2 separate regions of the Homo sapiens genome follow, and region 1 is linked to region 2. A link means that fine-mapping ties the variant in region 2 to the expression of a gene that starts in the linked region. Tissue or cell type: whole blood. Region 2 holds a variant in brackets; the other region holds the start of a gene. All regions are shown on one strand. Distances are from middle to middle.

Region 1 (13,042 bases), 38 kb after region 2:
ATGTGCCACCCATTGTCCTAAACCCTTTATACACAGCTTCTCAGTTGATCCCCAAAACTCTATGACACAGACACCATATTATCCCCATTTTACAGATAAAGAAACTGCGACATAAAGGTCAAATAGCTTGTCCAAGGCAAAGAGTAGAGCTGGGATTTAAAAACAGGCTACTGGACCTCAGAAACTACACTCTTAGCCCCAACACTGGGCTGCCTCAACTACTTGCATAAGAAATCTAAGTGTAATTATAGGGAAAGGATGATCAAACTACATCTCACAGGCTATATCAGCCCACCGCCAGCTTTTATAAATAAAGTTTTATAGAACACAGATACATCCACTTATTTACAAAGGAGCACTCGGTAGTTGCCATGAAGACTGTATAGCCCACAAAGTCTAACCTACTTACTATCTGGCCCTTTACAGAAAAGTCTGCTCCCCTCTGTTATGGACTGTCAGCTCCTTAAGGTAGGGCCTGTGCTTCTTCCTCCTGTCTCCTGCTTCTCACATGGCATTTGACATATACATAAAAAGCGCTCAAAAATATTTGGGGTATAAAAATTCCACCAGGCATAATTTCAAGCAAAGAGGAGTATGTTTGGGGGATGGTGCTGCCACCTCACTCAGGGCTTAGAAAGTTTCCCAACTCTGGGCCGGGCACAGTGGCTCACGCCTGTAATCCCAGCACTTCGGGAGGCCAAGGCGGGCGGATCACCTGAGGTCAGGAGATCAAGACCAGCCTGGCCAACATGATGAAACCCCGTCTCTACTAAAAATACAAAAATTAGCTGGGTGTGGTGGCGGACGCCTGTAATTCCAGCTACTCAGGAAGCTGTGGCAGAAGAATCGCTTGAACCCAGGAGGTGGAAGTTGCAGTGAGTGGAGATCACGCCACTGCACTCCAGCCTGGGTGACACAGCGAGACTCTGTCTCAAAAAGAAAAAAGAAAGTTTCCCGACTCTGCCCAGACTCTACTTAACAACCAAAAAGCCCAGATCAGCTGCAGCGGTGGTTTTCATTGCATTGTTAGCAGCCCACACAGCTCTGACGGAGTGAGCACTGCAGAGACGGCTGAGTGAGGATCATTTGCATCAGTCACCTAATCTACTCGATTGCCCTGAACACAAGGCCAGAACAGAGCCCCCAGTTCTACCCACACATAAGGAGAACCTGAACCCCACCACTTTCCAAAAAACGTCCAATCCCACCCAACCACTCATGGCAGCCTGCACAGGCCACAAGGCTGGCCGTGCAGATAAATACTTAAAACATCCTGGAAAAGAGTGACTAAAAACTGATATTGGTTGCCTTTCAACTCTTTGTATTTTCATCAATATATTTATAGAAAGGGACTAAACCACACAAAAACATAAATAGTCCCCTAAAAACTACAACACAAAAAGAAAAGATTATTCATGGTGCAAATGCCTTCTCTGACCTTCAAGGAACAGACTTGCAACAAAAGACCATATATAATGTTTCCTAATTTTATCATTATTATTGATATCATTGCATGAGGCACAAATAAAGCATTTTCTGGGCTGTGACCATATTCAGTCCAGTCTAGGTTATCAAAATTCAAATTCTGGATGGTTTTCTTTTTAATTCTGTCTTGGCCTGGCCCCAAATCGCATCAGTGGGAGCCAGGCAGAACTGCAAAAAGCCTCCCACGTTTCCGGCACAATCATTTCAACCCTTCTTTCAGGACACAAAGGCCCATCCATGTGGCTTCTTTCTTCCCAGAGTCCTCAGACAACTGTCCACAAGCAGCCTCTGAGGAAGCACACCAAACGCAGACAGCCACTGGGCAAATCAAATGGCTTAAGTCAACTGGGTCCTCATGTAATGAGAGGCAGGGCTAAGACACCTGCAGATTTGCCAAGGCTGGGGCTTAAGTGACCACCAATGCAACCCCTAGGTTCCAGAAAGCTAGTCACTAGTCTATCTAAAATACAAGACTCTCACTCACAAACTTCTGCTGAGGACCTACTGTGCACCAAGCACAGGACTGGTGCCTGTGGTGGCCTCACAACACTGCGAGGTTCATATCATTTTACAGATGGAGAGACCAAGGCCCAAAGAGTTAAATAACTTGCCCAAGGTCATTTGGCCAAAAGGAGACAAAGCTGGAAAGGTAAGAAGGACTACACAGCTTCTCCCTAGACTGCCCCTCTCAGAAGCAATGCCATGCACATGAGGAAGTGGCAGTCCTGTTTTCCAAAAGCTCTCCAGGTAGCAACATGAAGATGGCCAGGATGGGGAGCCATCTATTCACTTATGCACTGCTGGTGGCAGTGTGAAATGGTTCAGCCACTTTGGAAAACAGGTTAGCACTTTCTACATAGGATGGATACACGAGCAATTCTAATGCTAGGTATTTACCCAAAAGAAATAAAAGCATGTGACCACACAAAGACTTACACACAAATAGCAGCTTTATCTGTAATAGTCAAAAACTGGAAACAGCCCAAATGTTGTCCTACAGGTAATGGATAAACAAACTGTGGTATATCCACAGGACATAATGCCTGCATAATACACCGTGTCTCTATATATGCAGTGCCCAGGCACCTGTATACAGGCATCCAGCAAAGGGCGCATACCCAGAATATATAAACATCTCGTAAAAGTCAAGAAGAAAAAGGCAGACACCCAACAGATAAATGGGCAGAGGACTTAAAGAGCAGCTTGCAAAACATGACATCCCAATGGCCGATTAATACGTGAAAACATGTTCAGCCTCAGTAGTCATCAGGGAAAGGCAAATTAAAATTGGATGACATGAAAACAAGAGACAATATCAAGTGTGGATGAGAATGTGGTACACACAGAACTCTCTCTACACACTTTTGGTGGAAGTATTAATGCATACAACCACTGTGGAAAACTCTCTGCTAGTATCTAATAAGCTGGACATGAGCAAACACTCCTAGGTGTATATCCACAGAAATGCATACCTATGTTCTCCAAACACAGGTACTAGAATGTTCACAGCATTGTGACCCTATGAATAGGGTCAAAAACTGAAAAGAACTCAAATACCAACCTACAATAGACAAATGTGTTCAGTATATTCATACCACGGAATACCAAATAGCAATGAAAATAAACAGACCACAACTATACACAGAAACATGCGTAAGCCTCCCAAACATAACGTTAAGAGAAAGAAGCCAGACACACAGATCACATATTACACAATACACAGTTCAAAAGGAGACCAAACAACTCAGTGGTGTTGAGGTCAGAATAGCAGTTACCGTATGCGGGGAGATACTATGAGGAAAGGGGCTGTGGGGGACAGGGAATGTTTTGGCAGCTGTTTCTTAATCTGGGTGTGTTCCATTTAAGAAAATTCATTGAACTGTGTATGTATATGATTTGTGTACTTTTCTGAATGTAGATTAGACTTGAAATTTACTCGCAAAACTCAGTTAGACAGATGACGTGAAAAGGCATGAGCAGCTTTTCTTTGCCTCAACAACTTTTTCAAACTGCAAAACAGACACACATTCACCTTGGGAAAACAGACAAGAGAAGATAATGGAAATCACCCATAATCCCACCAACCAAAGAAAACCATTTTGGTGTGAATCTCCTCAAATATACACACACTTTCAAAGGAGGGGGAGGGCAGATTCTGCAGGGAGTAGTTAATACGAAGCAGGTGCTCAATACGTATTTTGAACCATAAGTGAATAAACAATATTATACAGTGTTTTGTAACCTAGGCAACCATCCCTTTTATTATTACCATCAATGAAACTAGTTAGTGTCCCTAAAGGATTTTAGCACACGGCCTCAAAACACTCTGGCAGACTACACAGGAAGATATGCAGATATTTCCTATGTACACGCGGACAAGAATACAAAACCCAGAGCAGTGATTTTCAACCCTGGTATCACCAATTCCCTCTAAAATTATTGGGATACTCAAAAAAACACTTATTTTCCTTCAAGGTGGCTTTAAAAATTCATATATACCCCAGTGATGCTTTAATTTGGGATAAGTGGCACCAAAATGCTGGGGGCTAAACACTAAACACTCAACGTATGTTGTTAATCCAGATAGAGTCAAAAGCAAGCCCTGGATATTTGGTCACTAATGGCCCCCAATGGGTGAGTTGTGGTGGGCCCTAAATCAGGGTGGGCACGTCACAGGAAGAGTCATACTCCCTGATCCAGAACCAAAGACTGTTTGCAGAGAGCAGGACAGATGATAAACACAGCAACACAAGGACAAGGTTACAAGCAGGTACAGAACCAAGACTTCTGATACTAATAATAGCTAACACTGGCTCAAATAGAACTAAGCCCTGGTTTCCCTCTCTGACATTTATTCATTTTTTTATCCATTTGACAATACTTACTCTACCCTTACTGTATACCAGACCCTGTTCTCAACACTGGAGATAACAGCAGCAACAAAGACAAACAAAATTATCTGTCCTCAGGGAGCTTATACTCTAGTGTGGAGAGACCAAAAAAAGTAAAATATAAAGCATGTCAGATAATAGCAAGGTATATGGAGAGAAATAAAATAGGAAAGGAAGATAGGATTTAGAGGCTGGGAAGGGGAGCTGTAAATGTTTGGTGCCAAGTTTTAAAAGGATCCCTTCAAAATGAAGTAATCATCTTCTCCCCAAAGAACTCTATGATAATTATGTTAATGTGGTCCCAGGGTAACCACAGCACTCAGAATAAAAACCAAGAATTTTATGGACCAGAAAGTGCCTACTTAAAAACAGACAAATTGAAGATCTAATAATAGCTACCACTTCTTGGTATCTTGCTATGTACTATTCTCAGTCCCTTATACACCAATAATCTCATTTAATCTTCACATTGAACTAATGAAAAGAGTAACATCATTTCCCACATTTAGCAGAAGAGAAAAACAGAAGCCCAGTGCAATTAAAGAGCTAGCCCACGGTCACATGTGTGCTAAGTGTTGGTGTCAAGATTTGAATCCAAAGTTCACACTACTCTTCCTCCCCAAATAAATGTCTACTTTAGAGACAGAGTCTTGCTCTGTTGCTCAGGCTGGAGTCCAGTGGTGTGATCATAGCTCACTGCAGCCTTGACCTCTTGTGCTCAAGCAATCCTCCCAACTCAGACCCCTGAGCAGCAGTGACTACAGGCCTAAGCCACCACCACTGGCTAATTTTTATATTTTTATTTTGTGGAGACAGGGTTTCACCATGGTTCCCACGCTGGTCTGGAACTCCTGGGCTCAAGCAATCCTCCCACCTCGGCCTCCCAAAGTGCTGGGATTACAGATGTGAGCCAATGCACCCAGCCTTGTCTTCCTTAATCCTAGTCAAGATTTGTTGTCATTCAGCATTTTATTGAGTTCTTACAACCCTGCCAATCACCAAAAAAAGAATTGAAGGTTGGTTCCACGTTCGCAGTGTCTTCTTTTCTCCAAATAAGAAAAAGTGAATGGCAATGGCAACCCTTAGATATTTAAATAACAATTTCTAGATCCAATTAGAAATTATTTCCTCAAATACTTGATATTATGAGCAACTCCAAAATAGCTCCATTTTAGTTTGAGAGTAAAGTTTGACTTAGGGCAAATGAAAGTTCATACAGCCAGTTTCTTACTAGGGGTAAGCACCTCAAACTGAACACAGTCCAAACAGAACTCTTGGCCAAGCCTCACCCTCCCCACAAACACATTCCCCTCCTGTGATCCTCATCTCCACAAAGGACGTCTCAACCTCCCAGCCTCTCAGGCCCACAAATCAAGAGTTATTCTTGCCCCTCTCTCACCTCCACATCAAATTCATCAGCGATTTCCATCCTCTCCACACCAGATCTATCCCTTCTCTCCAGTTCTCTGCCAACCCCCAGCCCAGGCCGCCAGCATCTCTTTCCTGGACCACTCAGATGGGCTCCTAACTGGTCTCCCTGCTTCATGCTTTGGCCCCTTGAAAATCTCATCTCTACACAGCAGCCAAAGTGACCTAATAAGTGTCACTTCCCTTCCTAAAATCCTTCTGGGCCACCAGAACCCAGTCTGAAATTCTAATCCTGGCCAACTAGGTGCTAGGTCATCTGCCTCCTCAAGTTCTCGAGGTTTACTCTCCCCATGGTTCACTCTGTATGAGTGATAAGATGGGTAATAAGAGAGTACTCTAAGTGACAATGTGAATAGCAGTAAAAACACTAGACTCACACTTAAAATTATTCCTGCAAATACTTGCTTTATCTCATCACCTTTTTTTAACCTTCATAGCACTTGCCACTTTCTGGATTTTTTATTGTTGTTCATTTGTATCAATGTATTTACTCTTCAGTGCCATCCTGTAAATCTATACAATGTTATTATGCCTGAAATATTTTCTTTAAATATCTATAATAATGAATGACAGAAAGCCCTTAATGCATGTTTTCCCCATACTCTAAGTATTTCACATTCTCATCCAGTGAGTGTGAGCCAAATGTCCTGAACTTACTCTCCTGAGTTGAGCACGTTCCCATCATACAGTGTTCTTCTCTGTGACCTCTCTTTATGTCGTTTATTTTGTGTTCTGGCCCAAACTGCCTTCCTAAGGGCATGAGGATGAGGCTACAAATAAAGGCAGAATATGATGCCAAGTGTTAAAATATAAGTTTTACAGCAACTTGAGAACATGCAAGAGGACACCAGGGTACAAACTGTTAGTGGGTGATTGGTATTAAGTCCTGGGAGCTGGTGAAGAGCACTACAATTGCACAGCAGCCTGAGAGGATGAACCAAGAACTTGGTTGCTATAGATTTGTCATTAACTGTGGGCACTTTGAAAAGAACTGCCAAAGGAAGATGCTATGAGGCCCAGAAAGAAAGGCAGCAGGAATCAGTTGGCTAACTATTTGTACTAAGGCATTTCCCTGGACCAGGGAAGGGTGGTAGCTCCAGCTCCTAGAACAGTTCCTGCCACATAGTAGGTGCTCAATAAAACAGTCTGTGAATAGATAATTGAACAAATGAATACATTTTCAAAGTTTCTATTTTTATCCTCTTCTCTCTTCCTTTTCACTAATCCATCTGTCCCTTCATAAGACCCCTAGAGAAGGGAGAATTTTGCAAGCACAGAGTCATCGTAATCTTCTCCAAACCACTAATGGACCCTCAGCCATCGTTCAAAGAACAAAATGTGGGAAATAGAAACCCTGACACTGAGATGTTAACAATTACAGACGATGCTTATGGAGTCAGTGGTAGACTTGGAAAACGGTGAGTCTACTGTGGTAAGAACAAACATAGGCAGACAGCTATAAATTGCAGTAAACAAACTCAATAAAGATGAGACATCACTTAAGCATGCTCAGGAGTGTACTTAATACCACATTTCACCTAGGTAGCCTGCTATCACGTAGGTATTATTATTGGCATTAAATGTGCTTCTTCTCAACCTTGCCTCCAATCTAAACACCACAATGGGTTTAAAATAATGCAAAAGAATGTTACTCCAATGCCTCCTAAATCCACTCCAAATAACAAATCCTTTAATACAGACTGCAAGGTAAAATATTGTTCCCCAGCAAGTAAATAATAAAATAACTGTAATCCAGGGTAAAAGCTTTGCTGGCCTCATAATCTACTTGAAGAAAAAGCATTAAGTGATTGCTCAACACACCAACAAAATGCTGTTACTGACAAGGCACCTTGAGTTGCCATTAACGAGACATAATTACCAAGAACTGAAATCAGATTTAGTCATCTCATATCTCCCTCTACCTACGCATTCTACCTATTCTTTTTCAGCTTTCACGAATTGAAAGGGGAAGGGAGAGGCAACAGCAGACACTAGGACTATTTTGAGAAATAAAAGGATTCAAAAGTTAAGTGCAACTTCCACTAACATAGTAACACATCTCCCAGGAAGCCCAGGTGACTCAGAAAGTCCTATATGTAGAATATCAATATAGAAACAACTCAGTTTCCATACTTCAAAAGACCTCTTCCTCCAAGTTGAGTTTCGTGCAGATAACTGGCTGATATGTTTCAGATGGAAGCAAATCTGAACATTTCCAAACAATCTACAGGAAGAGATAACCAAGTAATATAGTCCATGCAGCAGAGATAAGCAACTTTCCAGGGTATAATTCAAATCTCACAAACATCCTTAAGAGCCCCAAGTCTATTAAGATCTGGAGACTGTTAAATAGGCAGGACAAAATATCCCACCAACCACCTCTCCAAAAAGCATTGTTCTCCTCGCACTGACACTTGTATTTCCCTCTGGCTTGTTTTTGGAAAACAAATTGAAAAAAAAAACAAAAACAAAAAGTAAACAGTAGTGCCACATCTGTTCTTGTCTTCCTCACGATGGCAGATCACACACACTACCACCATTCCAAGTGCCTCCTGAGCCCCTTTCCTCGACAGCCCCATCCTTCCACGTGTCCATAACTAGGCTTCTCAACTGCAAGGGGGAAGTGAGCAGGAAACTTCAAATGGGACCTGAAGAGGAAATAATGATAATAATGTAAATTGCTACTAATATTAAAAGGGGGAGGGTATTTTTTCTTTCTTTTTATTATTTTATTTTATTTTATTTTATTTATTTATTTTTTTTGAGTCGGAGTCTCGCACTGTCGCCCCGGCTAGATTGCAATGGCGCGATCTCGGCTCACTGCAACCTCTGCCTCCGGGGTTCAAGCGATTCTCCTGCCTCAGCCTCCGGAGTAGCTGGAATTACAGGCGCGCCGCCACGCCCGGCTAATTTTTTTTGTTTTTAGTAGAGACGGGTTTTCACCATGTTGGCGAGGCTGGTCTCGAACTCCTGACTTCGTGATCTGCCCGCCTCGGCCTCCCAAAGTACTGGGATTACAGAGGTGAGCCACCGCGCCCGGCCTCTTTCTGTTTTTAAACAAAACTTCCATTACAAACATCGGAGGCTGCAAGGCACAAACTGGGGCAGGAGTATGCACAGTCGCCCAGGATGACAAGTGGCAGGTTTTTTGTTGATGGTGGTGGTGTTCTGAAACACCAAACTTTAAAATGAACTGTTACTTAGAGAATTACTGTAATCGGAGCGGACGTGCTAACGCTTTTTCACCCCGGCACAAAGCACGCCCCTTCTGCCTCCCTTTCCCAGTCATTCTTCAGGCGTGCGGGAAACCGCGGACAAGCAGAGCACGGGGACCAGCACGATCCTCCTGCCACCACTCCAGTCTCTGCAGGTGCCAGCATAGAAGAAAACCAGGGCTCTCGCCTCCCTCCCCGCCACTGCGGTGCGGTCCCGGGGTGGAGCCACGGCGCGCCCCATCCTGAGAACCCCACCTGGAGGGGAGCAGGGACGCAGGAAGGGCACCGTTGGGAGGCATCACTGGGTTCGCTGAAGGCACAATCGCGCGCGCACACACATACACAGACACACATACACACACGCACGCACACACACACACACACACACAGCGGCGCGCGGTGGCGCGGGCGGCTGGCGCGTTACCTGTTCTGCCAGCCCTGGAGGAGGTTGGTGTATTTGCTGAGCACGCCCTCGAGCGCCGGCTCCCTCCTGCGGCCGCCTCCCCCGGACGGGCTAGCGGCCACAGAGCCCGGGCTGCTGCGGCTTCCCCCGCCGCCGAGCCCGGCCGCCGCCGACCGGCTGGAGACCCCCCGGCCCGCCAGAGAGCAGGAGGGCGAGGAGCCCGCCGAGGTAGCACGGCTGCTGCTGCGGCTGCTGCTGTTGCTACCCCCGCCGCCGTCTGTGCCCTGGACTGCCCTCTCCATGGTCCGTGGGCGCCCGGGACGCGGGTGCCCGCCGCGGTGGCGGCCCCGGCACGGCGGCTGCTGCTGCTGCTACAGCTCCGGACGCCCGGGCCGCGCGTGCCTGCTCCAAATCCCCGGGAAATGCCTGACTCATACAGGAGGAAGAGGAGGAGGAGGCGAAGGAGAGCTGGGAAGGAAGCCAACGGGGCTGGATGCAGCTGCGGCCGCCCCTCCTCCCGCCGCGGCCAGGGCCCGGCCCCTCCCTCCGCACTAGTTTCCCGGGCAAGTTCGGAGCGGGTGGCCGGCTAGGCGAGCCCTCTTCGGGTTCCTCCTTCTCTTCCTTCGTGTCCCTGCGGCCTCTCAGGCCCTCGGGACACTCTAGGAGGCCGATCTGCAGGGTGGGCACGCCCTAAATCCACGCCAAGTCACCCACGCATTCCTTCTGCCACCCTCTCTTGGATCCGAAGGGGCGAAAGGGAATCTCTGCACGTCACTCCCCACCCCTTATCCACCTCGGGACCTGGAGGGAGGGGCAGCCCCACCCACCCGGTCCACCCGGATATGGACCCGCCCGGCCTGACAGGCTCACACGCACACTCCCTCTCTCGGTCTTCCGCACACGATGCTGCGCCAGACGCTCCTACACAGTAACCTGGAAATTATCACCGGCGGAGCAAAGTCACAGCTCAGGGAGGCCCTCCGCGTTGTCTGGCGGAGGAGGGGAGTGGCAGGTGATCCTCACAGGTAAGCTCGCCGGGCATTTTCATGCAGCAGGATTATGATAAATGCTTAACAGACACACGGCTGGGCTGGGGTGAGGCGCGCGAACTCTCAGGTTTGTGCGAGTGCTTCCTTAAATTGAGTGTCCTAGGTCACTCACTGGCCTAACCCTAATCCCCTGCCCTGAATGGCACGCATAAACCTGGCAAGTCAAAACCTATCCATTGCTACCACACTGCACGTGCACCTAGGAGCAGAGGCTCTGAAACCGGGAAAACTGCTCCAGAGGCAAGGGAAATTAACAGATATTTACAAACATTGAAGGATTCTCTGTGTTGGCTGTAACTTCTGCGCCCCTCTTCCTACCTAAAGATACTCTTTCTATCCCACTAATATTTTTTGTGAATATAGATATCCATTGTAATCTGAAGTATCAAAAATTACCTAGAAAAAAGCTTTGAGGAACTCAGACTCTCTCTCTCACACACACACAGACAAAACAAAAGGTGATAGATGATAGGTGATCTCCGTCCAAAGGATCTACAAACCCATCAAGCAGATAAATACTTCAAGAGTTAAAAAAAATTACTAAATGGAAAAGTCAGCTCTCAAAGGGACAGTTCCCCGAGCCCAACCCCTTTCTAGCTTCACATCCTTCCAGGAAGATTTCATGGGTGGTTTAGCTCTAGAGATGCACGGAGAAGCTTCTGGAGTTGAAGAGAAGTGGTTGTGCCCCTGAGTAAATTACAATTCCAGGTGCCTACATAGTGTTAAAAAAAAAAAAATCTGAAAAGAGCTTGCCTGGACCAAATTTGAAGCCATTCAGAGCTGAATTCTAACCTATGACCTTGATCAAATTACCTCTTTTAGCCTTAGTTTTCTCACTGCAAAATGGGACAAATGATACCGGCTGTAATAAACTATGCAAGAATGTTCATTTGTTCAAAATATTTACTGCCGCTTCCTATGGAAAGAGTATCCTTCCTCCACATGGACCTTAGGCTTGGCCATGGAATTGCTTTGAGCAATGGAATGTGAACAGAAGTAATGAATGCCCCTTCCAAACATAAGCTTTAAGAGCAGTCATATGGTTCCACCATCTTTCTCTTTTCCTTATCCCAGGAGAGCAGCATGTCCCGGATAAGGACTCTCCTTAAGCTTGTGTCCTGGAGTGAGAAGGTGTGGAATACAGCAGATCCTAAGCCAGTTAGTGTTGGCCATGTAACATGCACAAAATGTTTGTTTGAAGCCATTGAGATTTTAGCATTATTTTTTACCACAGCATAGCTTTGCCTAAGCTAACTTACTGATCATATATGAGTGTTCATTGAGTCCTGCATTGACATACAGACTGAAGGTGGGAAGGTAGGTGCATACTGGACTATAAATGTCAGCATTATGTACCAAAACAACATGCCTTTTATTGGAGACTGCCACCTTAAGCTCCTGCTAAAAGAGGAGAAGTGTCATTTTATTTCATATTACCTAACCTATGCCACCATTACTCCACCTTATGCAGCCAACCTAAGACTGAATGAGCTAGCACAACAAATTCTCACCTTGGACTAAAAAATTAGACCCTTGAGATAGACCAGTTCAAGTGGGGAAGGAACTAAGCTAAAAGGAATAGTCAAGGCCAGGATGGGGCAGGAGCAAGCCAGCCGTATGGGATCAAAAATGTCCAAGAGGTGAGTGGAGCAGATGTGCTGAAAGTAGAGGCTATATCATGAAAGAGTGATGAAGCACATGCTGTTCCTCCTGCTGGTGACACTGTTCCCTGCTCTCTTCACCCGGTTTGTGTTTCTCACCCATGGAGTTATGGATTACAAGTCACTTCTTCCAGAAAGCTTTCCTTGACCTACCGTAGTATAGCAAATAGGGAAAAGGTACCTGCAGAATTATGTTTGGAGAGGAAAAAGTCTTTATGTTTGAAAAACAATTTGGAAAATACATAATAAGTTGGCAAAAAGTATTTGAAATACATACTGTAATGCCCAACAGTTTCATCTTGCTTGTTACCCGGAAAAGCCAATGCAGGTTTTTGCAATAGAGGAAGAGTTTAACAATTGTAGGGCCAGCCAAGCTGGAGCACAGGAGTGTATTATTACTCAAATCAATCTCCCTGAAAATTCAGAGCCTAAGGGGTTTTTTTTGTTTTTGTTTTTGTTTTTGTTTTGAGACTGGAGTCTCGCTCTGTCACCCAGGCTGGAGTGTAGTGGCACGACCTCAGCTCACTGCAAGCCCTGCCTCCCGGGTTCACGTCATTCTCCTGCCTCACAGCTTCCCCAGTAGCTGGGACTACAGGCACCTGCCACCATGCCCAGCTAATTTTTTTGTATTTTTAGTAGAGATGGGATTTCACTGTGTTCACCAGGATGGTCTCGATCTCGTGACCTCGTGATCCGCCCACCTCGGCCTCCCAAAGTGCTGGGATTACAGGCGTGAGCCACCGTACCGGGCCCACCTAAGGTTTTTTTTTTTTTAAGGATAGTTTGGTGGGCAGAGGGCTAAGGATGGGGAAGCTGATAGATTGGGTGAGGGATGAAATTATAGAGAGTCGAAGTTTGTCTTCTTGCACTGAGTCAGTTCCTGAGTAAGGGCCACAGGACCTGATGAGCC
Region 2 (16,408 bases):
ATTTATATATCTGATTATATTATACCGAAAAATAAAAATGAAAATGAAAAACATGGTCTCTCATTCAAGAAACTTGAAGAAAAAAAAGTTTAAGAAAACCAAACACTGTTATTTGCCAATGATAAGTTTATGCTAAAATAATCCATTTCACTAGAGTTTCCAACTCCGAACACGGTCTCCTCACCTCCACCCGCATCTCCCAGTTTCTTTGCTTAGCTTAAAACTTTCCTTACCTCCAAGACAACACTGCCTCAAATTCAATGCCCTAAGTGATTTCGCTTCCTGCCTTTCAAATGGGATACAAATGGCTTAAGTACCTTGATGCTGCTTGTTCTAACAATATAATAAATAAATAAATAACAATGTAAGAAGATATACAATTTATTTCATTGGTAATGGTTTCCCTATGATTTAAATTTAACGAACACCTTGTCTCCACAAACCCACAGGAAAATCTGTAAAGTTTTACATTGCGTATAATAAAAATAAGTCTACTATATCCTTACCTATCATTTTTTCTACCTGAATAATATTAAAGTCCATTACACACTCCCCATGTCACAAAGAGGCTATTTAACATCATTTTAATGATGTCTGCTCCTTCTCCTCCCCCTCCTTCTTCTTGGTGTCAGCAAGAGAATCAAAAATTTAACAGCTTTCATGAAAACAATGAAGTATGTCAATATTTTAATAGTTGTAACATTTTATCCATATTCTTATTACAGAAAATGAAAGTATTCTCTCATTAATCAAAGCAAAACAAATTCTAACCTTTTAAGATGGTAGAATATTCTTATTTATGGTGGCAGTTTCATAAGACATACATTTGTCAAAACTCATTGAACTGTACACTTGAAAAGGTTCAATTTTATATACTGCAATAAACTCAAATTTATTTAAAAATAAAGTTTTCTAAAATCAAATATTTCTCCTTTCCAACAAATACAGTATACTAGAATAAGGATTCAATTCCAAGCAACTCAGAAGAGTTTAAAGATTTTACTGCAGGTTGAGCAAATGAGAAGTTACTCCAGTTTTACGCATGGAGAAACTGATCACTGAAATGAGTTGTGTAACTTCCCACACTGTTATTGTCAGGCCATCACCAGAGTGAGCAGACTCATGAATAGAGCACCAGTCCTGCCATCCTTTTGGCTCAGTAATGAGGCCTTCGGTAAGTTCTCGATCCCTTCAGCTGCAGAATGAGGAGGTTAGACTCATTTGCTAAGGGCCACTTCAACTTTAACATTCTGATTTTATATTCTAGAGATTTGAAGTATACTTTAAATGTCCTTTAAGGGGGAAACAATAAATTTTTTTTTTTTTTAGGAGACAGGGTCTCTTGCTGTTGCCCAGGCTGGAATGCAGTGGTGCTATCATAGCTCACTGCAGCCTCGATCTCCTGGGCTCAAGCAATCCTTCTACCTCACCCTCCCGAGCAGTAGTGACTACAGGTACACACCACCACATTCCCCTGAGTTTTTACATTTTTTGGCAGAGACGGTGGGCTCTCACTATGTTGTCTAGGTTGGTCTTCAACTCCTGAGCTCAAGCAATCTTCCCACCTCAGCCTCCCAAAGTGCCGGGATTACAGGATTGAGCCAGGGCACCCAGCCTCTAAAATTCTTTTATCAGCTAATTGAGAAATACTATTAGAACACCCTAGGACAATCCAATGCACTGAAGGACAGCAATCAAGGGGTATTCAAATTACAAAAGATTTCCAACTTTACAACAAGCTTTTACATTAAGAGACTCTCTAGGCCACTTAAACATTAGTTTACAGACATTAATTTTGAGAGGAAAGAAGACAGAAAAAAGTGTTAAGTGCTACAGTTAAGAATAAAATCATTCAAAGGAAATTAAACATCTCTGATAGTATGACGAAAATAAATGTACATCTGAGTCAATTCCCCTACAAATTTTCAGAACAATTGTACTGTAAAGAAGGCATGAATAGGCTAATGAAAACCACCTCTGTTTAAAAAAAAAAAAACAAAAAAAAAAACCTGGCATATATAAAGTGCTTTGGTAAGAGGCATAAACTAATTACAAAGGCTTTTTTGGTCTGTTTGTTGTTTTTACAAAAAAGGAAGCCAGGCATGGTGATGCCTGTCTGTGGTAACAGCTACTCAGGAGGCTGAGCGGGGGAGGATGGCTTGAGCCTAGGAATTCAAGATCAGCCTGGCCCATTTAAAAAACAACAACAACAAAAAAAAAGGAAGCAAAAACTTCATCTGTGTGGGGAAAAGGCAAAGGAAAAGCCCAAAATTTTAAACCCAAATTTCATAGTCAAAGACCATCAGAAAATTCATTCTTTTTTTTTTTTTTTGGAGACAAAGTCTCGCTCTGGCGCCCAGGCTGGAGTGCAATGGCACAATCTCGGCTCACTGCAACCTCCGCCTCCCAGGTTCAAGGGATTCTCCTGCCTCAGCCTCCTGAAGCTGGGATTACAGGTGCCTGCCACCACACCCAGCTAATTTTTTGTATTTTAGTAAAGATGGGGTTTCACCATGTTTCCCAAGCTGGTCTCAAACTCCTGACCTCAGGTGATCCACCCGCCTCGGCCTCCCAAGAGAAAATTCATTTTTATAGAAAAAAAAAGGCTGACTATATTACTACATTTCTATTCATAAACGTAGCATTTCCCAAAGACTCTTCTAAATAGTTTAAAGGAAAAAAAATTGGATATCCACGGTTAACATAAGCACAATTACTGCTTACTATATATCACCCTGGTATGAGTTACAATTGCATTCAGCTGCATGTCATAGAAACTTACCCATAGTAGTTTAAACAATCGGGGCTCTATTTTTCTACTAAAGCAACCAGTCCAAAGATAGAAACTCCAAGGCTGGTAGAGTAGTTGCAAGAAGCCATCAAGAACCCCTTCAATCTTTCTGATTTGCAACTCTTAGCGCTTGGCCTTCCTGGGACAAGATTGCTACATCCCCTTCATACAGGAAGGTGGGAAGGGAAATGGGAAAGTTGTGTGCCAGCCTCACAGATCCTGTTTATCAAGAAACCGAAGCTCTCCTGGAAGCCTCTGCCCTGCAACCACTTCTACTTATATTTCACTGGCTGCTACTGTGTCACCTTTGGCAACAGGGGAGTCTGGGGAGATGAGAATTTTTAACTATAATTTTTGCCACCCAGAGCAAAACCAGAATTCCATTAGATAAGAGAGACCATTTATCTTAGAAATTCAAAATACATATTTGATGTTAAGGGATCTGAGAACTGTGCAGTAAATAAACATGTTAAACTTTTTTTTTATACAGTATTTCTCAAAGTTATTTGAACATAAAATTCTTTATTTCCTTTGAACAGCCTGTTGAAACAGCATTTGGTGCAATTCATCCTGGGAAATGCTGCTTTGGGAACTAAAAGAAGAAAAAAAAATCTACTCCTATGAAATAGATTTTTTTTTTTTTTCTTTTTTTTCTTGAGACAGAGTCTCACTCTTTTCGCCCAGGCTGGAGTGCAGTGGTATGATCTTGGCTCACTGCAACCTCTGTCTCCTGGGTTCAAGCGATTCTCCTGCCTCAGCCTCCCAAGTAGCTGGGATTACAGGTGACCCCCACCACGCCCGGCTAATTTTTGTATTTTTAGTAGAGACGGGGTTTCACCATGTTGGTCAGGCTGGTCTGGAACTCCTGACCTTGTGATCCACCCACCTCAGCCTCGCAAAGTCCTGGGATTACAGGCATGAGCCACCGCACCCGGCCAAAATAATTGGTTTTCATATGTAGAAAGGGAAAGGAAATAGGTTGCGTTTAAGCAAGGGGTTCTGGAAATAAAATTGCTGAAGTGATAACAAAATTCTACAAGCAGGATCTGATATGTTTTTACTTTTTATGTAAAGTCACCATTCTAGTGAGAAAAATCCTTTATCTTTCCACTTTATGCTTTTACAGGTTGGGCCATACCCCCTTCTCCTCTTCACCATCCCTTCTCAACTCCTGAACTGTCATTTCCTTATGTAACTCCCCTCTGTTCTAACATTCCCCACTGGTCTTTAAATGTCCATTCCTGAGCTTCTCTAAGGTTTCACTCATTCTTTGCTTCAGCCTCTCATGCTTTAATAATTTTTCTTTCTCCTATTTTCATTTTTGTTTTCTTTTTATTCTCTCTTACATTCTTTAAGGTACACCAGCAACTCTTATTTTCTTAAAATACTACCAAAACAACCTAGGGCTTAGCATTTATTTACTGAGGCAGTCCCTTCTGCATATTTTGTATTCAATCTGTACAAAATGACTGTCCTTTGAAACCTCATGTTAGCTAAATGCTGTAACAAACAGACTCTAGTATTACTTCCAAGAATAAATGTGCATATTTATAGGGAAAAATCAAAACATAATTTTTCATTCTGATTCTAAAGCTTTCACAAGAAAGACATTTATCATATCCAGTTCCATTAAAATATTCACTTCTTTTAATCCACTTCAATGGTGAAAAGAAAAAGTAAATTACATTTTTCACATTTCCAAACACCATCCATTTCCATGACACACACAGGTATCTCCTTGCCAAGAAAAGTCAGTGGTTGTCTGTTTTGGAAGGGAAGTAAGAAAGTGGCATTTTTTATTTCCTGAAGAAAAAAAAATTAAATAGGTCAAATACATAAAACTTCCATGAAAAGAGCCACACTTCATTTCAGCCATTAAAGAAAAATGTGTTTAAATTCCCCAAAGGAACCCTATGCTCTACACTGGGAAAGGCTTATTCACTGCTGACTTTCAAGAACCAGACATGACTTATCACACCGTGTAACCAAGGCACTGAATGGAACTGAAACCCCAAGGAGTCTTCTTATCTTTCTGCTTTCTAGATACCAGGAAAAAAAAAGAAGCAGTTGAGATTATTCACTCTTCCAGTAAACAGGCCTCTAGAAAGTCAGAGGAATGGCTGGGTGCAGTGGCTTATGCCTGTAATCCCAACACTTTGGGAGGTTGAGGCAGGCAGATCACAAGGTCAAGAGATCAAGACCATCCTGGGCAACATGGTGAAACCCTGTCTCTACTAAAAAGTACAAAAATTAGCTGGGCATGGTGGCATGTGCCTGTAGTCCCAGCTACTCAGGAGGCTGAGGCAGAAGAATCACTTGAACCTGGGAGGCAGAGGTTGCAGTGATCCGAGATTGCGCCACTGCACCCAGCCTGGGCAAGAGACACTCAGGCTCAAAAAAAAAAAAAAAGAAAGAAAGTCAGAGGAACATGAAACACTCAAATGTCATAAAGAGCCTTTTCTTGCCAACTCTTGGTTATATGGATTTGCTATACTCTTTAGGGGCTGAAATTACTCATCCGAGAAGGCATAGCCAACTTGCCTCAAGGCAGAAATTTGGACAGCATCAATTTAGGTCCAGCAGAGCACTTCTCAAATTGCTTCCAAAGAGAAGACTGGCTCCTCCTAGCCAGCAGGGGAGCTAGAAGAACAATACAGCCACTCACCCCCATCATGCCTTTCAGTCCTGTCCAAAGTTCAAGCCCCTTCCTGCCCCCAGACCCCCGACCCTTTCCCACAATATCACACCCACAGTCCAAAACTTCCCTTGGATCCCCACCCTCCTACACCTTTGTACTGAACCTCTTGGGACCACCCTTCCCCCAACCTCTCTTCTTATCTTGGTTGAAACCTGGAACTCTTGATGGAAGCACATTGTAGCTTCTCCTTATTGCCCAAAGCTGTTTCCAATATAAGACTCCTCCACTCTTGGGTAAAATTTACCTCCATGTCTCTCAATCATTCTATCTCATTCGCTGAAGACCTTTTCCCCTGGTTCAGTCCTCCCTGAGTCACCAAGTCCAGCAGTCATTCCAAATGACCTTAGAATCCACCAAGCACACTGCCCAATTAGTTCCTTGACCTCATTCTGTAACCTCCTTCTTGGTGTTACTGTCTTCCTCCCAAAGACCTAGCGTGGCTTTCCCATCACTACTCAGAATGGCTCCAACTCTGACAGTACCTGCCAAACATCTCACTGCATTTCCTTTTGACCCTACGAACTCCTTCCCTGAGATCTCTCATGCCACCTCTCCCACCACACCAACTCTTCCATCTCTTCTGATGCTCCAATTTGCTAGCACCTCTATTTTCTTCTTCTCTGACAGGCCTCTTCTGTCTACATCTCCTTTCTCCTCCATCCTACATCAACTGCCCACTAACCAATGATCTCAACTCCCTCACACTCTCTTAAACACTCACTCAACCAAATCCCAACCCCAGATCCTTCTACCTATCACCTTCTCTGTTCCTCTCCTCAGGATACTCAACACCAAGGAGAAAACCACACAACCATTAACAGCAGATGGCATAACAGATTCAGGGGCTCCATTCTGGACACCCTCAGAGCTGTCCAGCAAACCTGTTGAGCTCTCTTTCCATTCCCCTCAGAAGTTTTTGTGGGGTTTTTTGTTTGTTTGTTTGTTTAGATAGAGCCCACTTTGTCGCCCAGGCTGGAGTGCAGTGGTGCGATCATGGCTCACTGCAGCCTTGACCTCCTGGACTCAAGTGATCCTCCCACCTCAGCCTACCACGTAGCTGGGACTACAGGCACACGCCAACTCACCCAGGTAAGTAGAAATGGGGTTTCACTATGCTGCCCAGGCTGGTCTCGAACTCCTAGGCTCAAGTGATCCTCTGTCTCAGCCTCCTAAAGTGCTGAGACTACAGGTGTGAGCCAACATGCC[T/C]GGCCAGAGGCTTTTTCAAACCTCCTCGACTTTGCCCAAGCCTCAGGGTCCACCATCAACCCTTCCTCTAACTCCACTCTCAGACGATAACCTCACCTCCTACTTTACAGAGAGTAAAGCAAGAACGCCTTCAACTTCCTGCCCACCCTCAAACTCACCTTCATCTGTATCCATCAATGTCTTCCTTCCCATTCAGTGGATAAATGTCCTTCCTCCTGCTTCAGATCAACATGCATCCCAGCTCAGAACTCTATCCACACTAGACTTCCCAGGCATTTGCTCTACTACATTAATGCTCTCTTATGCTCTCACACTTCCCTCTCTTTTCAGTTTAATGTGCCAAGACTCTCTCATCCTTTTTTTTTTTTTTTTTTGAGACAGAGTTTCACTCTGTCGCCCAGGCTGGAGTGCAGTGGCACAATCTTGGCTCACTGCAACCTCCACCTCCCAGGTTCAAACGATTCTCCTGCCTCAGCCTCCCGAGTAGCTGGGACTACGGGCGCATGCCACCACACCCAGCTAATTTTTGTATTTCAAGTAGAGACAGGGTTTCACTATATTGGCCAGGTTGGTCTCAAACTCCTGACCTTGTGACCTACCCGCCCTAGCTTCCCAAAGTGCTGGGATTACAGGCATGAGTCACCACACCTGGCCAACTCTTTCATCTTAAAAAAAAAAAACAAAAAAATTCCCCTCAGACCTAACGCCTGCTCCAACTATGACCTCTTCTTCACAGTCAAGCTTCTAGATTTATCTCTCCCAACTTCTCTCCCAGTGAATCTGGCTTCCTTCCCCACCCCTCCAGTGAAACTCCCCTAGCTACAGTCAGCAGCACACCAGCATGGCCATAGTGACCAAACTCCACAAACACATTCAGACCACACTTGACCTGGCTTCTCTGGAACATCTTCCCTGAGCCCTCAATTCATGCACACACTCCTGGGTTTCTTTCTATCTTGCTAGCCAATCTTTTCCCTCTGTCTGCCTTTTACTTCACTGTTTTTCAAACTGCCAGTCTTGAACCTAAGTCTCAAAATCCTGGGCTTAAGCGATCCTCCTGCCTCAGCCTCCTGTAGCTGGGACTACAGGTGCATGCTACCACACCTGGCTAATAGAGGGACGAGGTCTCACCATGTTGTTCAGGCTGGTATCAAACTCCTGGCCTCAAGCAATCCTCCTACCTCGGCCTCCCAAAGCACTGGGACTATAGGCATAAGCCACTATACCCAGCCCACTCCATATATTCTTTAATAGACAGCCAGACCTAGCAATCCCATGATTAAGTATTTAACCAAGAGAAATAGAAATATATGTCCACAAAAAAGACTTACACAAGAAATGTTCACAACAACTTTATTCATCAAAGCCAAAAACTAGAAACAACCCAAATGTCCATCAACAGAATGTATAAGCAAACTGGGTGAACCCATACAATGGAACACTACTCAGCAATGAAAAGGAGCTACGACTGATGCACTCAACAATGTGGCTGAGCTCCAAAGTATTATGTTGACTTAAGAGAGCCAGACATGGCAGAACACCTACTACGTAACATCATTTTCATGAAATCTGAGAAAGACATAACTGGTGATAAAAGTCAGAAAGCAGCTGTAGAGAGGTGGGGTGGGTGACTGACTGGAAATGGGCACTGGGGAATTTTCTGGGCTGGTGGAGATGTCCTATATCTGGTTTGATGTGTTGATAATATGAATGTATAAAATTGCCACCTCATTTCCCTTTTTTAAGTATTTTCTGAGAGTGCCACAATCTCATGGCAAAGGCCTTTGGGATTTCATACCTGTATGATTCTCTGTACTCCTTCTTCGTCACCTTCCTTCACAGGCTACCCTGCTCTCATACTGAAGTTCTTATCTTTTCCCAAATAGATGATGTTCTCCTTCACCCCTGGCCTCTCTGCTTGAACAACCCCACAGCTTTGGCATGGCCACCTCCTACTGTCTTTTGAGACTCAGCGTAGATGTTACTACTGCCAGGAAGTCTTCCCAATCCCCAAACTAGATTTGTATTTTTAGTAGAGACGGGGTTTCACCATATTGGCCAGGTTGGTCTCAAACTCCTGACCTCGTGATCCACCCACCTTGGCTTCCCAAAGTGCTGGGATTACAGGCATGAGCCACCACACCTGGCCAACTCTCTCATCTTAAAAAAGGCTTGTGCTTAACCATTTCCCTCCCCAGAATGTGAATTCCCTGAGCACAGGGTCTCCAAGTTATTTGCTGAGGGTGTGCCAGGTGTTGAGAATGGTAAATGTACTCAACGTTTGTCCGACAGGTGAATGAAACATTCAAAAATTGCTTTCTCCTCAAGCTAAACACAGAAGGATGAACAGTTGCAATATCAATATTTAAGGAAATAACTTTGAAAGAATAAAAGGTCAGTATTTTATATTTAATACTTCAGTAACCATATATACACAGGAGACTGTATTATATCAAGATCCGGTGCAAACAAAAAAGAAAAGCAAGACAAACAGACTCTGCTAACTCTTACTCTAAAAGCCAAGATAAAAGGAAAATGAAAGTCTTATTGGGTAAATAAATGAATCTCAGGGAGGGCATCCTGAGCAAAGGGAAGACTCTTTGATGGATACGAAAGTGGTCACTTTTTCAGTTGATTTAAGCAGAGGCAAGAGTTAGCCCAACAAATCTCTCTGAGCTGTGTAAATTCCAACAGAAGCAGCTAGGAGCCAAACAATGATTTGGAAACGTACCAAGAGCTCAAAAGCATCAAGTCTAGACACCTCAAACTCCCCTGAGAGGGATCTGGCTGCCTGCCTACTGCCAAGATCCCTGCTGACCCCAATTTCTTGTATTCCATAATCATTTTTAGATGGATTGCTAAGAGGTAGCTTTAAGAGAAGCAGCCTCAGCCACCTGCCATCTTTCACATCTCAGAGGGGCCCATCTTTCCTTTGAAAGGGAAAGAAAATGGACTAGTGTTAAATTGCAAGTGAAATAAATTCCTTAAATATCAGGAAGCAGAGAATATAAGTAAAGATCTTCCTCTAGCACTTCTAGCTGCCAAATCAATCTTCAAAGCAAAAAAGTGCTAGCTGTATTTCTTCAAGTGCTATCTGATTTGCCAGAATACTTTTCACCATTCCAGAACTATTATCGGCTGGCTGCTGGTTACCAGCAGGGCTTCTCTTTCTTCCTTCTTCTCCCAGTCGAGAATGCAATGTATGGCAGGGCACGGTGGCTCACGCCTGTAATCCCAGCACTTTGGGAAGCCGAGGCGGGTGGATCACGAGGTCAGGAGATTGAGACCATCCTGGCTAACACGGTGAAACCCCGTCTCTACTAAAAATACAAAAAAATTAGCTGGGCGTGACGGCAGGCACCTGTAGTCCCAACTACTCGGGAGGCTGAGGTAGAACAATGGCGTGAACCTGGGAGGCGGAGCTTGCAGTGAGCCGAGATGGCGCCACAAGAATGCAATGTATGGCTCAATATAAAAAGCGGGCTGAGCGCAGTGGCTCACGTCTGTAATCCCGGCACTTTGGGAGGCCAAGGCGGGCGGATCAGGAGTTTGAGACCAGCCTGGTCAACATGGTGAAACCCTGTCTCTACTAAAAATACAAAAATTAGCTGGGTGGCGGGCACCTGTAATCCCAGCTACAAGAGGCTGAGAGAGGAGAATCCTTTGAACCCAGGAGTTGGAAGTTGCAGTGAGCCAAGATCGCATCATTGCACTCCAGCCTGGGCGACAGGGTGAGACTCCATCTCAAAAAAAAAAAAAAAAAAAAAGTGACACATTTCCTCTTATACATTTTTTTTAAATCCTCCCAGATGCCTCATTACCTGCCTGGCTCCATTGTCAGCATCTGAGCCTGGCATCTGAAACCTTCAAAACAACAAACCCATTTAAAGCACAGGCATGTCTGTAGGGGTAAAAGTGAAAAGCAAAAATTGAGATAAATGAACCAAAAAGTGATAGCCACTGTCATTGAAAGTAAACACCATATGTAAAATAGCAAACACACAATTAGCTAACACAGTTTTGACAAAAAAAATTATGTCAAATTTTTTAAATCATAACATACACATAACAAAATTTGCCATTTAGTCATGTTTAGGTGTACAATTCAGTGACATTAGTTGTATTCACAATTGTTATGCAACCATCACTACTATCTATTTCCAAACCTTTTTCATCACCCCAGAGAGAAATTCTGTAACTATCAATCAATAACTCCCCATTCCAATCTTTCCTCAGCCCTTGGTATCTTCTAGTCTACTTTCTTCCTCTATGAATCTGGCTAGTATTGATATTTCATACAATGGGAAGCATACAATATTTGTCCTTTTGTAACTGGCTTATTTGACTTCTTAGCATAATGTTTTCAAGGTTCCTCCATGTTGCCACATGTATCAGAGCTACATTCCTTTTCATGACTAAATAATATTCCATTGTGCATATAAACCACATTTTGTTTGTCCATTCATCTACTGATGCACACTTGGGTTGTTTCCATTTTTGAATCTTGTGAATAATGCTACAATGAACCTTGCCATACAAGTATCTATTTGAGTCACTGCTTTCAATTATTTTGGGTATATACCTAGGAGTAGAATTGCTAGGTCATATAATACACAGTATTTTTTTTAATCAAGTACATTCAATAGTTTTAAAAAAAACTTGGACTTTTTTCCTGATTAAAAAGCAACACATGTTCATTGTAGGAAATCTGGAAAATAATTACACCACCCAGAGAAAGTCGCTGTTAATATTTCAGAATATTCCCTTAAAATCTTACTGTCTAGTTATACACATACACAGAGACAGACATACATGGATATTTTAACTAAAACTGGGTTATTTCCACTTATCATTGTATCAAGAGCATTAACTCCACTGTCATTAAATGTTCTTCAGAGGCCGGGCACAGTGGCTCATGCCTGTAATCCCAGCACTTTGGGAGGCCAAGACAGGTGGATCACGAGGTCAGGAGTTCGAGACCAGCCTGGCCAATAGGGTGAAACCCCGTCTCTACTAAAAATACAAAAAAACTAGCCAGGCATGGTGGCACGCACCTGTAGTCCCAGCTACTCAGGAGGCTGAAGCAGCAGAATCACTTGAACCCAGGAAGCGGAGGTTCGAGTGAGCTGAGACTGCACCACAGCACTCCATCCTGGGCAACAGAGGAAGACTCCGTCTCAAAAAAAAAAAAAAAAAAAAAAAAAAAAGTTCTTTAGAAACAACACTTAATATATGAATAATATTTCATCAGATAGATAAAGCATAACTTTATTAACTATTCCCCAATTTAGGCTGTTGCATATTTTCTGTGGTCATAAATAACACAGCAATGAACATTTTCATGAATTATTTCTTCTGCACTTCTTTGATTACTATTTTAGCATATCTTACAACAAGTAGAATCACTGCATCAAACAATATAACCATTGCTAAGGCTGTTGATAAAGATTACCTATTTGTCTTCCATAAAAGTCATACCAATCTATATTTCTACCAGCAAAAATAAGCAGCTTTTTTAAATGTAAAAATAAATTAATTATATAATCATAAAATATAAAAGAACAGCTTCCAAACTGGTAAACCATGTGTTAGCAATTATCTTTTCTATTAAATGATGTGGCCAGGCTAGATGAACTAAGGTTCAAGACATCTAGGAAAATGTCAAGTTTTCAAATGGCAATCCATATTTTAAACTAACAGGCCTGCTAAAGCATGGATATATTTACATATGGACATGTGGAGAGAAAGATTTATGTAAAACCACCACCTTCCTGATAGCTGTCCCCATCCCTAAATTTTCCCTTTGTCCTTTTTATACAAGCCTGAATAGACTAAGGACAACTCTAATGCCTATAATACATAATGCCTATAATACAGTGCTGTGGCACTGACTCATCTCCTTGGAGACACCTTCTTCCCAGCACATCCATCAGCCAATCTGGTTGCTTCACATGAAAAGAGTGGGTACAGGAGTTAAGGTTGCAGTGAGCTATGATTGCACCACTACATTCCAAACTGGGCAACAGAGCAAGACCCCCTCTCTTTAAAAAAAAAAAAAAAAAAAAAAAAAAAAAAAAAAAAAGGCCAGGCACAGTGGCTTATGCCTGTAATCCCAACATTTTGGGAGGCTGAGGCGGGCAGATCCTGAGGTCAAGAGATTGAGACCATCCTGGCCAACATAGTGAAACCCCGTCTCTACTAAAAATACAAAAATTAGCTGGGCGTGGTGGCACACATGTGTAGTCCCAGCTACTCGGGAGGCCACGGCAGGAGAATCACTTGAACCTGGGAGGCAGAGGTTGCAGTGAACCAAGATTGCACCACTACACTCGAGCCTGGCGACAGAGCAAGACTCCGTCTCAAAAAAAAAAAAAAAAAAAAACAGGAAGGAACAAGCCATGCTAACAAAAGGGGTGCCAGGGTCATTTTGGGAGGAGAAAATTACCTAAAATTCCCTCCCTCATCAGCAAACAAGGCGTCAAATTCCTGCCACTAGGACTCTGGTCCAAAGTTACAGTCCCCAAAGTCAACACCAGTGACATGGGGCTCCCAAAGTCACCACAAATATGCTCTAGGGACACTATCTGGACCGGAAGCCTCAAAACAAAAGTCAGTCAGTGACATACGATCCAGCCCTCAAGCCCACTTGCTTTGACCAGAATCAGGCTTTGGTTTGTTCATTGTTTTTATTTTTGGCTTTAAAAATTGTTTTGAATCAGTTGACAATCTTTAAAAATTAAGACAGCTTCTCACACAAATCTACATCTCTAGTTTCTCTTGCAATATCCAAGGATCTCAACATGGGGTCCATTCACTACACGGCAACCATAGGCCATAGCTGAGAAGCAGCTGCCCTGTCAGATGTGATGCACTCTCAGGTCTCCATGCTCCCACCTTCTCCAGACGCTCAGGATGCCAAAGCAGAGGTCAGCAGCCCTTGACCAGAGGGGTTTATACTGCTTTTCTGACACCCTTGTTTCTGTGACACAGCCTGAGACCTGGAGAATATTTGAGCCTGTGACCCCTGGTCTGGTACGAATAACGTATCATGCATACAAATAGGGTTACTGGCCAAACATCTGCAGATCCTATTATGACTAAAAAAATCCAAACTACTTAAGGCATTACTCAATTCAGAGAACCTCTTGCCATTAGGGATTGCCTGAATCAACAGACACTACTAAGTTTTGGTTTATGCTTTTTTTTTTCTGAGATGGGTTTCACTCTTGTTGCCCAGGCTGGAGTGCAATGGCATGATCTCGGCTTACTGCAACCTCCGCCTCCCAGGTTCAAGTGATTCTCCTGCCTCAGCCTCCTGAGTAGCTGGGATTACAGGCACGTGCCACCATGCCCGGCTAATTTTTGTATTTTTAGTAGAGACAGGGTTTCACCACGTTGGCCAGCTGGTCTCGAACCCCTGATCTCAGGTGATCCACCCCCCTCAGCCTCCCCAAGTGCTAAAATTATAGGCGTGAGCCACTGCACCCAGCCACTACTAAGTTTTTTAATGAAAAGGGGGAACTCAAGTTTTTTACTTTTTCAATAATAACAAAAAAATTAGAAATCAATTAAGAATTTAAGAAAAATTAAGAATTTTATTAAGTTGTTTTTTATCAAAAAAAAAAAAAACCCTTGTATTAAGAAAAATTAAGAATTTTTTAAGTCGTTTCCTTCCTGACTACTATGTACAAAATATTAGGCTTCTATTGAAGCAATGACATAATGATGAGTAAGACCCTGCCTGGGCCCTTGCAGGCAGATGGCGGACAGCGTGTGAACAGAGCAATTGCGGGAGGCACAGCGGTAAAGGTAATGGCATCCACCTGCGAAAAGCACAAGAGCCCTCAGGAGGTGACAGGAAGCCTTTATCAAAGGACAAGGCATCTGCCCGGCTAAGGAGAGGGAACAAGAAGCAAGGCTATGACACAAGTTCAAGGTGGAGCTGGGCTTTGGTCCCATTCTAGCAGAGCTGAGACTTCCTTTGGAGGTCACAGGAAGTCACCCAAGAGTTTTTAGTGTTGCATGCTTTAGAAAAGTTACCATGGAGATGGTGTTGAGGTGCCTAGAAGAAGAGGAGCTTGGGCTCAGGGAGGCCTTAAGAAGATGATCGTGGGAGTCCAGACCAGATGCAAGGAGCATCGAAACAAAGACAAGGGCAGGAGGAGCAGACCAGAGAGGCAGCTACGGCTCAGTGGCTGTTAGATACTGACAAATGAGACGAGCAGTTATCAGAAGAGACAAAGGCAGGAGGGAGCAGACCAGAAAGGCAGCTATGCCTCAGTGGCTGGTTAGATACTAGAGAACGAGACACAGCAGTAATCAGAATGATTCACTAAATTTCAGGCTCTGACAACTCAGTGGACATCAGAAACACTGGGCCAACACAAAAAATAAAGGATGGGGAGCAGTTACTGGAAGGTAAGGGTGAGTAGGGGAGACATAGAGACCAGGATCCCATCTGCAGAAGTGTAGCAGCTCTGGATCTAGGCACGAACAAGGTCAACCCTCGGCCCAGGCTGTCCCTAAGCACACAGCACATCACCAAAGCTGGAGGTGCCAATTCCTCCACCCAACTCAGCTGAACAGCAGTTCCCACAGCATCACTAAGGCTGAAAAATTGGAATGCTATCCTCCTCACAAAGGCGGAAGCATGCTTTGTCCTCTGCCTGCCTATAGCGAGTGTCCAAATTACCAATGGCAGATCTTACACCAACATCAGAAGTCCCCTACCAGCTCCTCTTGGCCTCTGCATATGCCACCTTCCCCTACTCCACAATTCCTGCGACAGCACTGAGAAGGTACTCAGGCAGGGCATGGGGTTGGGAGGTTTGGTGGAAGTCTAAAGATGACCAACACATGAAACAAGCCCTCAAAAGAACCTAACAGATCACGGAAGACTCCTGTGGAAACACTCCACACGCTGAGCACAGTATGACAGGCTGGAGGAGAAAAATAGATAAAGAATCTGTGTTAGGTCATATTCCCTGGAGGCAGAGCCTGATGTGGCGACTCCTATGCAAATGAGTGCTTGAGGAAGTGCTCTCAGGATCCGGAGAAACTGGAAGAAGGTGAGGGAAACTGCATAGGAGTTGAGATAAGCCCAGCCTCCGTCTGATCCCACAAAAAGCTCTGAAGTAAACTGTACAAAGTTTGTGCTGCCAGGAAGCAGGGGATTGGGTTTGATACTCCCAATCGTTGACTTCACTAAGTGATGTCAGTCACTGGGTACAAGGTCACACCAGAGTGGAGGATGCAGGTTACCTCCCAGTCACCTCCAGGCTAGAGGGTTCCTCCCCTGCAGGGCAGAATCTTCCAGTGAAAGGTACAGGCATGAAGTATTAGCAGCTAACTCCCTCAATTAGTCAAGGGCTGGGTGCCCTGACCCAGTAAAGGGGATCTGTGCAGGGCACCAGCAACATCCACAATGGACAGAGTCCATTCTAGAAGTCCAGCAGAACAATATACATGCAGGGAAAGAGGGAAGGGCCATTCATCATTATGAGTCTTTTCATCTTTCCATCTCTCTGGAAACCATCCAGGAAGTTAAAAAACTCATCTGTACAAGGTGGTTGAGCACCTCTGAAAAGCCTTGAGCATGGAGTATAATTTTACAACCCAGACTGAAGGCTTACCTCCCAAGTAACTGGGTTTATTGTTCCCTATTGCAAGCAGCAGCCTGCAGTTCCACCTACCTTCTGCCTAAGAGCACTTTA

Evidence for each region. PIP is the estimated chance that this variant, and not a neighbour inherited with it, causes the effect.
Region 1: OSBPL10 starts here. The variant in region 2 is fine-mapped to the expression of OSBPL10 in whole blood (TOPMed, PIP above 0.99).

Annotation. Positions count from the first base shown.
Region 1 is chr3:31,971,456-31,984,497 of GRCh38, forward strand. It overlaps OSBPL10 (oxysterol binding protein like 10), which reads right to left and starts at 9,807. Exons shown (of 12, transcript NM_017784.5): 1 at 9,444-9,807. The coding sequence starts at 9,724. It overlaps ZNF860 (zinc finger protein 860), which reads left to right and starts at 10,295. Exons shown (of 2, transcript NM_001137674.3): 1 at 10,295-10,447. RefSeq lists an enhancer at 7,893-7,942 and a silencer at 9,497-9,566.
Region 2 is chr3:31,932,094-31,948,501 of GRCh38, forward strand. All of the region lies in intron 1 of OSBPL10 (oxysterol binding protein like 10), which reads right to left. Among named protein-coding and RNA genes, the nearest start is that of OSBPL10, 41 kb to the right of the region's middle. RefSeq lists enhancers at 14,233-14,835, 14,836-15,437. The variant T/C (reference allele first, on the strand shown) is at 6,696.